Linked DNA regions of Homo sapiens. The protein of the gene in region 1 purifies or fractionates together with the protein of each later gene. This does not show direct contact. Each region holds a gene or a part of one and is shown in the gene's direction. Other genes may lie near its edges. The genes, in order: LHX9 and ANKRD17.

Region 1 (3,827 bases):
TAACTAGAGAGTACAAATTTATTTTTAAGAAGAATAAAAGAATCCTTCTGAGCCACTTAGGTCTTTAGTTTGCAGATTAATGCTGCTACAAGTTGTTGTGGAGAAGGTCGCTTTTGTCTTGGTCCCAAAGGAGGGAAAAATTGCTTAGGCCCCCTTAGCCCGAAGAGTTTGTACCTCGCACCACTACAAACTGGATGCCTCTTAGTTAACATCTACTCCATCCTTTCTGGACTTTTCCCAGAGATACTATTCAATAGTATATATATTTTAAAGATCAGGTTAAAATTATCTATGGGAATTGGTTTGAAGATGCCTGACCAGAAATCAGGCCATCATTTAAAACAGTGCTTGCGAATCTGATGCCACTTTGTTCCAAAACTAGGGAAAGAAACCCTTCAGCAAATTAAACACGCGTTAAAATGTAAAAAAATAAAATAAATCCAGTTTTAACTCGTTATTTTAGCCTTCTTTGGATTTTGTCTTGCTATCTTTCATTAAATGTAAACATTAAATGTAAACAAGTCTCATAAAGGGTAAGGTTGATACTAAACTAAGTATAATTTACACAATATGTTTTCAAAATGTGCAGAAAACATGTTTGTGATTCAAAGAATCTCAGAGAAGATGTGAAACTTGGCAAAGGCCAGCTAGTGCTTGATAGGGCAAATGCCTTTTAATGAGAATGTCCCTAGTTTTGTTTATACCTCTGTGCAAATTAATCAGGCAAATATTTTAGAAAGAGACATGGAAAGTTTACCTGAAATGCTAGCTTGAAATAAAGCCCTCTAGGGATGAGAAGAAGATTTAGTTTAGGATAGGAAGCTCTTATTTGTGTAATTTAAACATTAATTGAGAGATTAAACTTTTGCCACTTCTCAAAATATCCTTTCCTTAAGCCCTTTCTTCCTATCCAAACTTTTAAGGCTCCTGGTGGTTAAATTAGCCTGGCACTGACCCCTAGTGGTCTTCCAGGGATCACTTCATTCTCAGAAGGTTACATACCTTCACAGCGACACTCACTTTAGGATGGGTGCCCATCGCATAAGTGACTGGAAATAAAATACTTAGATCTTCTCATTAACTTATAATACTGGATGTGAACTGACAGGTAGATATTTAAGACAGTTTTAAGAGTTATCATTTCATCTCATAATTCGGGGAGTGGGGGAATCCCCTACAGCTTTAGCAATAGGCCTTGGAGAAACAGTCATTTGCAAGTTTATATAATGCATGTGTAGTTAAACATAAATAATATCAGATAATGCACTGTTACTCTGTAGAAGAAATAGCTTTCTCTATTAAGTTGCATAATATGAGATAACAGTCACAGGAAAATCATATATAGTAATATCTGTTTAATAAAGACCCAACGAGCTATCTCCTTACATATTGGATTGTGTATTTTATGTGGAAACAGGGCCTATAACTGTATTTTACACACTAAAAGGCTCTGCTGAGTTTTTAATCAGCAATAATGGATATAGAATGCGTTTTAAGGGAAGCCATTTCATTAAATCTTACTACAATTATTTTTCATAAATTTCATTTTAAGAACTAATGATTATATAGTCAGGTTGGGAATCATATTCATTTCTATATATTACCTTGGTGTGGAGTGGGGGAAAGATGGCCAAGGGCATTATTTAAACACCAAGTCCTCTGTCCCAAGTGTGAAATTCAATTTGATGTATTGTTCAGGAAAGGTTACATGTTACATATGATAGGAAAGAAATCTGAGTTGAAGAACCCTCCGATGACTAACATGTGCCCCTTTGACTATTTTTTGTGGGTATATTTATAATCTGGTTATGAAATATGGCTGAGTTTACTGGAGATAAGTATAGTTTTATAGTAGGTCATAGAGATGCTGTTTCATCCATTTGAGGATATGAAAGTGCAATTCTGTAGAATATTTGAACTTGACATATCCCCACTGGGCCAAAATAGGATAAAATGTAATGCATACTCTTTCTGTTATCTCTGGACATATGGTAGCCTTTCTGGTGGAGTTTAGGAAGCCTATGTTTTACATTCGAATGTATATATCTGACTTGGATTCCACTTCAAGTTGATTTAATTTCGCATTAATACTCACTTGTAATTTACTGATGAACAAAGGGCCCAACATCTTGATTGAATGCTTCTTGAGCTCCTACCCCTGTGTTTGACTCAGGGAATCAATTCAAAGTTGAATATGGTATAGTCAGTTCCCTCAATGAACTCACCTGTTCTTTTGCCAAGTGTGTCCTCCTACTTATGCGTCTTATGGAAATACAAACAAAGGAGACATTTGTTTGTGTCTAGTCTTTTTACATTAGGAAGAATTTCTTGTTAAGTGAGTTTTATATGTGGCTGCCTTCTTGGGTGATGACTACAAAACTTCTGTATTTCTGTAAATATGCTGATTTGCTGAATATTTTTTAAAAAGTAATTCTAAACAGAGCCTAGCAGGCAGATAACATTGTATTAAGCAGAACATTTTATTAAGCAGATTGGAAGAGCTCACATTAAGGGATGCCTCCCTTTTTTAAGATTCAGGTTTCTTTCTCCCTGGAATGACATGATCAGGTTGGTTTTAGATTTTCTATTATAAAGCAGTACAAGGCAGGATGATCAGATCTAAATTTATATAACTATCTGAAGGAAGAATTTAAAGAAAAAAAATTACCATGCTCTTTAATTTGTGAAGTTGGCTGAAGTTGGTTGTGTAAATATTTCACAAAATGTTTTCATTTTACAATTGTATTTCCTATGCAGAGCCAGTAGATTCTTGGAAATGACCCTTTAAAAGTGTAGCTTTACATCCTGGGGATAATGACTTTCTGGCTGGTTTCAAAGACTGGGTTGTTTTGCCCTTGGTGCTAAGAAAGTCTTTGTAAGGGAAGAGAAAATGCCGCCCTCTCTCTGCCAGGCCAGCCAGGGGCACAGCTCACATCCCACTCACACACATCTGGAGCAAAAGGGACTAAGATCTGAGCCTAGAAATAAGCACCATCAGTATCTCTCAACTGTGAGCTGTGGGGAGCGCTTCAGGCGTGAACCGTGTGAAGGGAAGTCTGGGCTCATTCTCTTTCAGAAATATTTATTAAAATCACTCCAGGGGAAAAATATTTTCTTTCTGGTATAGCCCTGTGTTAACCAGTCATAGCTAAAAGCTGAAACAAATAATATTCTTATGTTTACATAAGAAATTCACAAATTTTGAATTTCTAACTTCTCCTCCTTTTTCAGCCTTTTCTAACTTTTTCCTGACTGACGGAGCTCTAGGAATATGAGAAAAGGCTAACCCTTAGAATTGACCTAGATGCTTCCTTAGTTGGTGGGCTCTCAGAAACTTTCAGACTTGAGGGAGTAGTAATACTTGTTTCTCTACGTCTCATGACAAAAAGCAATACCTTCAGACAGTGTGTCTCATTCCAGAAATATAGACAAAAGGTAGAGTCTTAAAACACTGTGAGTGTGGGCAGTGGGGAGCTGGTACAAATAACTATATTAGAAAAGGGTTTCTTCTTCTCACTCTCGTAGGTCTCTCTCACTCCCACCTTACTACTTAGGGTTTGTTCATATTCTCAAATTCTTCTAGCAACCATTAAACAAAAGAGAGGATTTAACCAATATTTTTCTATTGCATAAACTTTGGTTGTGTCTACATTAACAGAAGAGTTCAGCTTACTTTAGCAATTATCTTCTTTCTTTTTGTCTAGATACTACTCATAATTGGGTTGACAACCTTTTTCACTGCTGCTTTATTACCATAGCAGTGTCATACAGCCTGCCATCATGTCAGCTAATGCAAGAATTTCCACTGAGCAGTTGTTTGTTCACTG
Region 2 (3,827 bases), on another chromosome or scaffold:
AAAATAAAACTTGGATGGGTGCCTATCCTTAATCCAATAGTTGTGCAGAGAGGGAGCAGAAAACAGGGTCATCTGATAAAAACTATGACTAGAGGGGTGGCAGAATCTGTGCAGAGAGTAAACTTCTTAAATGGCGCAGCTCAGCGGGCAAGCCTAGTAATTCTGTTTATTAAAATAGAATGTGTAGGAGGCTGAGGTGGGAGGATGGCTTGAGGCCAGGAGTTTGAGGCTGCAGTGCACTGTGATTGTGCCTGTGAATAGTCACTGTACTTCAGTGTGGGCATCATAGTGAGACCGTCTCATAAAAAACAAAACAATGTGGAAGGTTGTTGTTATTTTGCTCTACTTTGGTTCTAGAAGGATACAGGAAATAAAAGGGAAACCAGAGTGAACACAGAGGTTAAGGTAGGCTCCCAGGGATGAACCTAGGGGAAAGCAGGATTCATTTGTTTATCCTTCTTTCCTTCCTGCCTGCCTGCCCTGACTATGTCTTGATGTTAGTTGTTCTGGGTTGATTTTTCCTAGAGGTTTAGGTGTGGCCTTTCAATATGTAGGTTTTTAAAAAACAAGCTTTTGTTATTTATCTTTGTGTTTACATTTACATGTCTGTGTATTCCTTGTAGTTTTTGTCTGTTTTCTACTGCATGTATAATTGCAGAATTTGGTTTTATTTGGTCTTTAGCTAAAATATTCTTTTACTTCTAACACTTTCCTGAGTTTTGTCATATTGTTTCCGTTTTACTAATTCTGAATTATGCTGTTCCTTCATATCATTTTCTTTTCGTTCATTTTTGAATTTTAGGTTATAGCTTTTTTTCTGGAGTGCTTTTATTGTCAACAGGAATGCTATAGGTCTTTCTCTTTTATCTTATATAATAGGCTTATTTGGAATTCAACTGCAGTTCTGTTGAATCTGCAGGTAACAGTTTTGATTTTTAAGCTTCAGACTCCTTTATTATTTATACCATTTTAGTTTAAATGTGCTTTAATATTTAAGCTTTTTTGGGAGGGGGAGGGGGGATGGAGTCATCTTGCTCTGTCACCCAGGCTGGAGTGCAGTGACACGATCTCGGCTCACTGCATCCTCCGCCTCCCGGGTTCAAGTGATTCGTCTGCCTCAGCCTCCTGAGTAGCTGGGACTACAGGCGCGTGCCACCACGCCCGGCTAATTTTTGTATTTTTAGTAGAGACAGGGTATCACCATATTGGCCCCTCGAACTCCTGATCCCATGATCCGCCCGCCTTGGCCTCCCAAAGTGCTGTGATTACAGGTGTGTGCCACCGCGCCCGGCCAATATTTAAGCTTTTCACATAAAATATAATTTTGGTTATTTTTGTTTTTTCTCAATAATGTATAGAGATTGAATCACTAATGAATAGTCTCAAATCAAGAAATCCACCTTGTTTGCATAAGTAAAAAAGATTCTCATTACCAAAAGCATGTTCTGTGAAGTACTCACAAGATAAAATAAAACAGACTTAGGCAATGATCCTCTTATTGGTATTTTATCAGTATATATAATGTTCTATAAACTTCAGTTCTAATTTGAAGAAACTTTTTTTTTTTAAACTGGACATGATGGCTCATCCCAGTAGTCCCAGCTGTTCAGGAGGTTGGGGTGGGAGGATCGCTTGAGCCCAAGAGTTTGAGGCTGCAGTGAGTTATGATCGAGCCTCTGCACTCTAGCCTGGACAATGGAGCAAGACTCTGTCTCCAAAAATACATAAATAAAATAAATAAAAAATGAATAAATAACAAAGAAACGTATTTCTTTTTCCTAGGCTAGGTTTTCCAAATTTATTAGATAGCTGAATCTCTTTTTCATCATAACACAAAGAGCAAGTATTCCCAGGGAATACAGTTTGGAGATTGCCACTACAGGCAGTGATTCTTACCCATCTCCATTCTGTTGTTGTTGGTTTGTTTTTTAATTTAAATGTCTTATTGCTTGCTACATTTTACTTAATGTCAAGGGTTAATTCATTTGAATATTATTTAATTTAATGGTTTATTACCTTTGTAGTTGAACATTTTGCAGCATTGACATCATATTCTACCTTGAAGTCATGGAACTTTAGCCAAATTTTAATATGCATCATTTTTAAGTATTATTTTTACACTTTGTTTTTCTGAGAATATATATTTAAAACATCTCCTGGTTTTAAGATTTGGTTTTATAAAATTACATGTTCTATAGATGACCTGTATTTTATTTCAAAATATCTCTTCTCTAGATTCTTCTGCACAGTCAGTATCCTCGGGAGTTCGTGCACCATCTCCTGCCCCATCATCAGTACCGTTAGGGTCAGAAAAGCCCAGCAATGTGTCTCAGGACAGGAAAGTTCCAGTCCCTATTGGGACTGAACGTTCTGCACGTATCAGGCAAACTGGAACGTCAGCTCCATCTGTTATTGGGAGCAATTTGTCTACATCAGTAGGACATAGTGGCATCTGGTCCTTTGAAGGGATTGGTGGCAATCAAGGTAGGATATTCTGTCCTGCTCTCTAGAAATTAACTTAATGCATTTAACTATAATGTAAACAGTATTTAACTTTAATAGTCATTTCCTTTTTTTTTTTCTTTTTTTGAGATGGAGTTTCACTTGTTGCTCAGGCTGGAGTGCAATGGGGTGATCTTGGTTCACTGCAACCTCCACCTCCCCGGTTCAAGCGATTCTCCTGCCACAGCCTCCCAAGTAGCTGGGATTACAGGCATGCGCCACCATGCCCAGCTAATTTTTTTTTTTTGAGACGGAGTCTCGCTCTGTAACCCAGGCCGGACTGCAGCGGCACAATCTCTGCTCACTGCAAGCTCCGCCTCCCGGGTTCATGCCATTCTCCTGCCTCATCCTCCCAAGTAGCTGAGACTACAGGCGCCCGCCACCACGCCCGGCTAATTTTTGTATTTTTAGTAGAGACGGGGTTTCACCGTGTTAGCCAGGATGGTCACGATCTCCTGACCTTGTGATCCGCCCGCCTCGGTCTCCCAAAGTGCTGGGATTACAGGCGTGAGCCACTGTGCCCCGCCTGTATTTTTAGTAGAGACAGGGTTTCACCATGTTGATCAGGCTGGTATCAAACTCCTGACTTCAAGTGACTCACCCACCTCAGCCTCCCAAAGTGCTGGCATTACAGGCATGAGCCACCACGCCCAGCCTCGTAGTCATTTCTAAAAGATCTGTATTCCTATTTTTTTTGTTATGTGAATATTTAATCACTTCTTTATGAGCTCTGTCCCCATGTGACCTTTCTCATTACATGTATTTATTACTGCTTTCAGAAAATATCTAATGCAAGCATGTTCTTTTCTTCCTTTCATCATATTAAGGACATAATAATATTTCCTTTCAGTCCCTTTAGGTTGTACTTAGGTTTTTTTCTTTTGTTTTATAACACCAAGTTTTTAGATTATTTCATTAAGCTATTATGTCACTACTTACAAACCATGGAAATATTGCTGTAAATATATAAAAGTAGGTCATTATATTGAAATAATTTACGGTTCAATGTGGAAAATATTAGAAAAACAAAATATTTGATTTTGATTTTAAATATTATCTATTTTTGTTTTGCCTCTTTGTTTGCCCTCAGACAAAGTAGACTGGTGTAACCCTGGGATGGGAAATCCTATGATCCACAGACCGATGTCTGACCCAGGAGTATTTTCACAACATCAAGCAATGGAGCGAGATAGTACAGGAATTGTAACTCCTTCTGGTACATTCCATCAGCATGTTCCTGCAGGCTACATGGACTTTCCTAAAGTTGGGGTAAAGTCCTGATTTTGTACTAGTTATTTAAGGGAGGATTTTCTGAGAAAATGTTT

The links.
Region 2: the proteins of LHX9 (region 1) and ANKRD17 purify together in Homo sapiens (affinity purification with mass spectrometry, with the first as the bait; one large-scale study listed by BioGRID). This does not show direct contact.

Annotation. Positions count from the first base shown.
Region 1 is NC_000001.11:197,923,752-197,927,578, forward strand, and holds part of LHX9 (LIM/homeobox protein Lhx9), read left to right. Parts: intron 1-3,827. UniProt on the Homo sapiens protein: Involved in gonadal development.
Region 2 is NC_000004.12:73,077,299-73,081,125, reverse strand, and holds part of ANKRD17 (ankyrin repeat domain-containing protein 17), read left to right. Parts: intron 1-2,235; coding exon 2,236-2,484; intron 2,485-3,592; coding exon 3,593-3,771; intron 3,772-3,827.